Linked DNA regions of Homo sapiens. The protein of the gene in region 1 interacts with the protein of each later gene in a pairwise test. Each region holds a gene or a part of one and is shown on either strand. Other genes may lie near its edges.

What was found. The genes of interacting proteins can lie anywhere in the genome.
Region 2: the proteins of FAM209A (region 1) and ERMP1 interact in binary tests that used the Homo sapiens proteins (3 or more experiments, as listed by UniProt).

The regions. Positions count from the first base shown.
Region 1 is NC_000020.11:56,522,585-56,526,184, reverse strand, and holds FAM209A (protein FAM209A precursor), read right to left. Parts: upstream 1,442-3,600; 5' UTR 1,377-1,441; coding exon 1,128-1,376; intron 403-1,127; exon of another isoform or gene 382-402; coding exon 115-381; 3' UTR 33-114; downstream 1-32. UniProt on the Homo sapiens protein: May play a role in sperm acrosome biogenesis.
Region 2 is NC_000009.12:5,831,639-5,835,463, forward strand, and holds the start of ERMP1 (endoplasmic reticulum metallopeptidase 1), read right to left. Parts: upstream 1,480-3,825; 5' UTR 1,390-1,479; coding exon 1,052-1,389; intron 1-1,051. UniProt on the Homo sapiens protein: Within the ovary, required for the organization of somatic cells and oocytes into discrete follicular structures.

The DNA.
Region 1 (3,600 bases):
AAAGAAAAGAAGCAAGCTCTCAAACATGGAAGTTCTTTTCTTCAGAATAGTTTTATTAGTTTGCATACAGTTTGTCAACACTCAACTTTTTTCTCTCCTGACACACAAATCCATTCAGCTAGAGCTTTCTTCTCCCCATATTTCACAGATCGTGACATGGTATGGATCTGCAGGCATCTCTGACTTTCGAAGCCTGAGGTTACTGCCACTACCTGTTGCCATGGCACGTTTAAGATTCCGCACTTTGGACACAAATTTCATAAGCTCCACCTCGAGTTCCATTAAGGTATTGAATGCACAGTCTTTGTTGGGGGAAGCATTTCTTTTTTTCTTTAATGGAGAGTGAAGTTGGCCGCCTCGAAGGCCAGGAGGACTCTGCTCCTGTCAGGAAAGATACTCAAGGTCAGTAATATTGTGAACTTTGTTGGTTTTGACACAGTTCGTGTTACAACAGCAGACTTGAGTAGTTGCAAGAAGACCATACTGCCCACAAAGCTGAAGATATTCGCACCCTCCCTGGCCCTTTACGGGAAGGGTTTGCCGATCCCTGCTCTCATCAGTTTGGGCACAGGATTATGAAGTGCTGGGTCTTTCTAGGGGAGAACGCACTTTCTCTCCCCTTCCTTTTCTACCTGAAAGAGTTGTTTGTGGTCACTTTGAGGACCAGCTCAAACTACCTTACATCTTTATCTCTTCAGCACAAGTCTCATATTTTGTTGGGATAATGATATCATTTCCATTTAGCTCAGGATTTTGTAGTAAGTCAAACACTAGCAAGAATTTAAAAAACAGGGGCTAGTGAATCTGGCCCTGTGAATAATTTTGACTTTCTGAAACACACCATAAGTTCTTGAATCTATCCTACATTTGAAAAAATCCATCTAACCAGAAAATCTGTGAGCCAGTAAGCAGAGGTCACTTTCCACTCTTTGTCCCAGTATCTGTGGATCTGGGGACAATTGTCTTCACTAAGGATACATCAGGAAGTGAATTTGCCAGCTTTGCCCAGGACCATGAGGTCGGTTCATTATACCCAACGGTGCCGTCTAGACTCACTAGAACATCCGTTTCCCTGAGACTCCTGAGATTGAATCAATATGGTGTAAAAAAAATGGAGCCATCCTTACCTTATTCTTCTCACTGTCTCTTTGACACTGCAGTATCACAAACGGCACAACAACAAAAAGAAGCCAGAGCCATTTGCTCCCAAGCCAGCCTTGGGTGTGCTCTGGTAGATTCTGCCGAATCCGAAAGTGCTCTCCGTATTGCACCTTCCCCTGGGGTTCGCTAGTTTTCTGTCTCAGAGAAGAGAACATAAAGGCATAGCTGCAGGTGAGGCACAGAAGCAGGACCAGGGACGATTTCAGCGTCCACATGGTGAGCAGAGATGGGGAAGGGAGTTGCTCATGACGGGTTTGCTTGCCCTCGCAACTGGGAGACTGGGCACCTGGTGCCAGGCCCTTGGTGATGTCACAGAGGCCCTGAGCTGAGGCCACTCTGGCCATTGTGATGATTTCAGGACAGAGGTTACAGGTCACAGGGGTTGCCCGGGAGGAGGACTCAAAGGGAGATGGGGGCATTTCCAGCAGGCAGTCAGAGAGAGAGGATGGGCACGACGGGGTGCCAATTCCCTGCCAGGGGACTCTTTCCAACCCTGGAGCTTTGCTGGGAGAGGCCATCATGTTTTTGTTTTTCATTTGTTTGATCCAGACATTGTGATGAGCAGAGGGAGATGCCATGTGCCCCGTGGAGCTGAGTTAAACGGGAGAGAAAGATATTAAACCACAGGCTACCTACAAATTTGGAGCCACCTATGTGGCTCAAACTAAACAAACAAAAAATTTGTTTTTGTTTTTTTTTGGGGACGGAATTTTGCTCTTGTTGCCCAGACTGGAGTGCAATGATCTTAGCTCACCGCAACCTCCGCCTCCCAGTTCAAGCCATTCTCCTGCCTCAGCCTCCTGAGTAGCTGCGATTACAGGCATCCACCATCACGCTTGGCTAATTTTGTATTTTTAGTAGAGACAGGGTATCTCCATGTTGGTCAGGCTGGTCTCTAACTTCCGACCTTAGGTGATCCACCTGCCTCGGCCTCCTAAAGTGTTGGGATTACGGGCATGAGCCACTGCGCCCGGCCCACCTATGTGTTTTGTTTGGCCTACATTGTTTTTAAAAATTGTCAGTACTTAAATATTGGGGGGCATTTCACTTTAAAACTCCACATTCTGGCTTCCTTTGAAAATATGGGAGGTCCAGAAACAATGAGTGCACACCCTCATGGAACCAGTCTCTCTGCTGCAGCCAAGTGAAACCGTCCTTTCGGTGGCCATATTCCCTCCACAGTCCCCACCACTCACTATTACCTCACACCATCATTGATCGTAGCAGTGTGTGCCCACCCTGGGTTAAGAGTATACTTTGGGCTGGGTGTGGTGGCTCACACCTGTAGTCCCAGCACTTTGGGAGGCCAAGGCAGGTGGGTCACCTGAGGTCAGGAGCTGGAGAATAGCCTGGCCAACATGGTGAAACCCCATGTCTACTAAACAAAAATTAGCCCGGCATGGTGGCATAGGCCTGTAGGCCCAGCTAGTTGGGAAGCTGAGGCAGGAGAATCACTTGGACCTGGGAGGCAGAGGTTGCAGTGAGCTGAGATCGCACCACTGCACTCTAGCCTGGGCAACAGAGTGAGACTCCATCTCAGGAAGAAAAAAAAAAAGAGAGAGAGTATACTTTGATTAAAATTGTGATAAGAACAGGAAGCTTTAGAGACTAGCATAAGGGGACTGCTCTAAACTAGGTTATGCAGGAAGCAGGAAGAGTGTCCAGAAAAAGATGGTTGAGTAGAGCAGGGGAGATGATTAAGAGTTGGTGGGTAAAATGGGAAGGGGCTGAATCCCCCAAGTAAAAAGGAACAGCTAGCTTGACAACTGAGGCCAAGGCTGGGAATAAACCTAGGACTCCATAGTATACTCGAAACCATGTGTTCTTTAAAATGACATGAAACAAGAAATCCTGGGTGCTGGAACGCACGGCTTGTACTTGTTCCCCTGGGTCATCTGTAGAGCTATCTTCCTGAGGAAGGCTCTGATTTGCAGATTTACTCCCGAGGAGCAGAACTTTATGCTGCACAGGAAATAATCAAAGTTCAGCTGGGCACCTTCGCTGTGCCTTAAACTACTGATCTCTGTGGAGTGACAAAGTAGTTCTGCAAGACTATGGCCAGGGGCAGTGGCTCATGCCTGTAATCCCAGCACTTTGGGAGGCCAAGGCATGCAGATCACCTGAGGTCAAAGAGTTTGAGGCCAGCCTGACCAACATGGTGAAACCTTGTCTCCACTGAAAATAAAAACAAATTAGCCAGGTGTTTTGGTGCACACCTGTAATCTCAGCTACTCTGGAGCTGAGGCAGGAGAATCGCTTGAATCCAGGAGGCGGTGGTTGCAGTGAGCTGAGGTGGTGCCACTGCACTCCAGCCTGGGCAACAGAGTGAGACTCTCTCAAAAAAAAAAAAACCAAAAAATAGTTCTGCAAGACTACTCTAGAAAACCGAAAGGGGAAAACGCTGTTGGGCTGTGCTGCACAGCTTCTTCCTCCATGAGC
Region 2 (3,825 bases), on another chromosome or scaffold:
GGATAGAATATAACTTCACTGTGCATACTCCTGAACGTTACAGATTCTGGGTTAATGACTTTAAGTAGCAGAAACCAATGAGCAAAAATAATCAAGTCAAGAGGTTAAATAAGGCGGGCGGGGGAAACTTTTGATGGACCTAGCCCTCCTAGCATACACCCAAGGTCTAATAACTTCAATTCAGGCCAAAACCAACTGTACCCCTAATGAAAACAAAACTGTTTTTGTCTTTTCACTGCATTCCAAGTGGGGAAAGCTGGAAGTGGGGGTGGGAGACGTTTCAGAAAGTCCTTAATAAGCTTGCAACACTTTGCATTCTAGCAAAAACTTTTTAGAACACAGTAGCTGTTGAAAACTTGACGCCAGCTTAACACTTCATGAGCTTTGACACACCTGGGTTACAATATCTTTGACTTAATCACCTTTCCTAGCATTCTTAAAGGTCTTAAAAAAAAAAAAAAAAGTCAAACCTTACACAGTCACTAATCCAAGGGGCCTAAAGATAAACTGCAGGGATCTGAGAATTTATCAGACTGCATACCAAATTTTGACTGGGCGGTGTTCCAGAAAGAGTTTCTATAGCCTTCAGATGTGGGGGCTGTAACCCTCAGAAAGTTAGAACAGTGCACTAGCGCCTTCCAAAACTCCCCGCCCCCAAAGCGAATTTATACAACAGTCTAGGTACACAAATTTCCATCTGGAAAGCAGAAGGGCTAAGCAAGGTAAAAAGGGGAAGCTGTTCCAGAATATGGGGAGACGACTCACAACCAACCATCTGCACGAAGGGCAGACAGTGGAAAGCAGGTTCAATCTACCTGGCAACCCCAATCTGCACCACGAGCTTAACCGGGGACAGGCAAGCCCCAAGTCCCGGCAATTCAGACCCCAGAAGAAGGACAAGCAAGGTCACCCCACCCCACGTGCAGCCTGGGAGGGGTCAGCGAGTCCCAGCGGTCCGGCAGGGGCGGGTGCACACAGGTGCGGTGCCCCGGAGCCTGCGCAGGAGCCGCAAACGGACGCGCGGGCCGTGCCAGGAGGGAGCGGCCGGTACCTGGCTTGGAGCGCGTCGAACTCCCCGCGGTGTCCAGCGGCCCCGCGTAGCACGAGCTGCTGCAGCGAGAGCTGCACCAGCGTCCGCAGCGCGATCAGGTAGAGCGCGAGCCCCAGCGCGGCGCGCACCTCAGACAGCCCGGTCCCCGCGCCCCTGCTCGCGCCGCCGCTACCCCCGGGGCTCCTCTTCCGCGTCCTCCCGCCGCCGCTGCACCCATCCACCAGAGGCTCCTGCGCTCGGGCCTCCCTCTCCGGCGGTGGCGCGGCCGCCGCTCCCTCTCGACGCTCTACTCCGACGCGGTGCCGCCTCACAGCAGCCGACTCAGAACCCCACTCCATGGCCACGAGCCTCAGCTGCCAGCCCAACCGCCCCAACCCGCGACAGCCCCGGCCGCCGCCGACGCCGCCGTCGCTGCCGCAGCGCCTCCTAGTGAGCGGACGGAAACTGCAGAGGGCCAAACTTCTTCTGATTGGCCCGTCCCGCCGCGCCAAGACCCAGCTTCTTTGGCAGTTCTCGGGTGCACACAGCTGCAGGGCCGACCCAGCAGCGGGTGGTGGATATGCCGTCTCCCGCAGGGCTTTTCCAGCCCTCTGTAGGACGGAGATTGCCAAATGTAAAGACACCTAAAAACCCAAAACGAGAAAAATGAGAGATCGCTTTTGAAAGAACACACAAGGCTCTTACAGTGCATCAGGCAGATGAAAAAAGCAATGACCTGGCTTTCGTAAGGAAGGAATATTAGAACATCAGGCTCCAAAAAAGTGGGTTCCTGGCTCTTAAAATTAGAAATAAGATTACGCAGAGGAGGCCCGGCCTATTGCTTTCACATGCATAATCTAATCAGATCTTCATAACTCAGCAACTTAATCTGTGCTATTACTGTCTCCATTTAACAGATAAAGAAAAATAATGGCTATTATTTATTGAATACCTGCTATGAGCTAAGCGCTAGGTCAAGTCCTTTAATACATCATCTTATTTAATTATCTTTAACAATACTTAAAAGGAAATATCTTTGTTCCCATTTTATAACCTGAGAAACGTAGAGATAACAGATGAAGAATGTAAATCTAATTTCATGGGCTCCCAAAACAGCATTCTGTTCCACTACTACATTAGCACTCTGCAAGTGAAGGTTCAGAAAGGCCATTCTTCACTTGACGACTCTCTGGGGCGGTTAAGCAGCAGAGCCTTGGTTTCAGTGCAGATCCTAGTGATTATCTAGTCTTCTTCCAGCTTGCCGGTACCCATGAGCCTCTCTGCTCCAAGGTTTTTTGTCCCTAGCTTGGAGTTGCTACATTAGCATGAGCATTAACCTAGAGACCAACTGGGAGAGCACACTGCCGGATTTTGACTTAGCACATATGTCAGATTTCATACAATGCCCTATAGTCCTGCTCTTGCCCACCTCTCAGGCTCCTCTGACACCAGGATGCTTCTTATTTCCAGCTCTCCAGCCACACTGGCCTCTTTCAAAGACTTCCTGCACGCATCTTTCCTTCTACAATAGGATCTTCTCACATGCTGTTTGAATTACCTGGAGTGTTCTTCTCTCTCCTCATTGTCTTTTTAACTCCTAGTTATCCTTTAAATCTCAGATTAAGTGGTACTTCCTCAAGCAAGAATCTCCTAATTTAATTAAGCTTGCTTCCCCTATTTGTAGGATCTCACAGCACCATGTTTGCATGTGACTATTTCATAACTTCCTCATTAGACTGTAAGCCCCACGAAGGCAGGAATCAGGTCTGGTTTTACTCACCATTTTATTCCTTGCTCTTAACACAAAGCATGACACATAGTATGTAGTCAATAGATATTTCTTGAGTGAATGAAAAAATGAAAACATACCACTTTTGTGGCAGCAAGCATAATTTTAGCTCTACAAGATCCCTTTCAGTCTGTAAGCACTATGAGACTAAAGACAGTGTCTATCTTATTTAATCATCACTGTATCCATAGTGCTTAGCTCTGGATAAGAGCCTAGCCCATGGTCATAACTATATGTATGTATATATGTGTGTGTGTGTGTGTGTGTGTGTGTGTGTGTGTGTGTGTGTATGTCTGACAATATCCCATGGTACCATAATAGGGAAATGCCTGGCTGCCTGGCTGTTGGGGACGGGTAGATCTGAGTTCCTGGATCTGGTACCTTTAGTACACATGGCATTATTCAAGTTACAATCTCACAGAGTCCACGTGTATTTATCTGTGGTAATGCAGATGATACCTGCCTTAAGGGGCTTCAGTGAGGATTAGATAGATAGACAGATGATAGATGGATAGATAGATGTGTGTGTGTGTGTGTGTGTGTGTGTGTGTGTGTGTGTGTGTGTGTGAAAGATCCTCACATAAGATTCTCATTAAAAACTATTTTTCAGAATTTTCCTTCTCATGAAATCCTTTGTAGATTAGATTAAAAGCTACTTTCCTATCATGATAATCATAGAACTCTAGGTGGTAGGAGTTAAGTTACAGCTGAGTTCCTGAAAGGCAGTTTTTCTCTATACTTGTATAGTCTACGGTATTCACGTTTGAATATTTTTAGCTACTAGTTGTTGGATATCTACTTGTGTCAGATACTGATTAAGGTGGAGAAACAGAGAAGAACAAATCAATGTTTCTACCTTCAGAGAGCTTACATTCTAACAAAGAGACAATGAACGCGCGCGCGCATGTGTGTGTGTGTATAAAATGTCAGAGAGTTAAGTGCCATAAAGAAAAATAAAGCAGGGAAATTGAGACTGACAAAAGCTGCTGTTTTATTAGGGTGATCA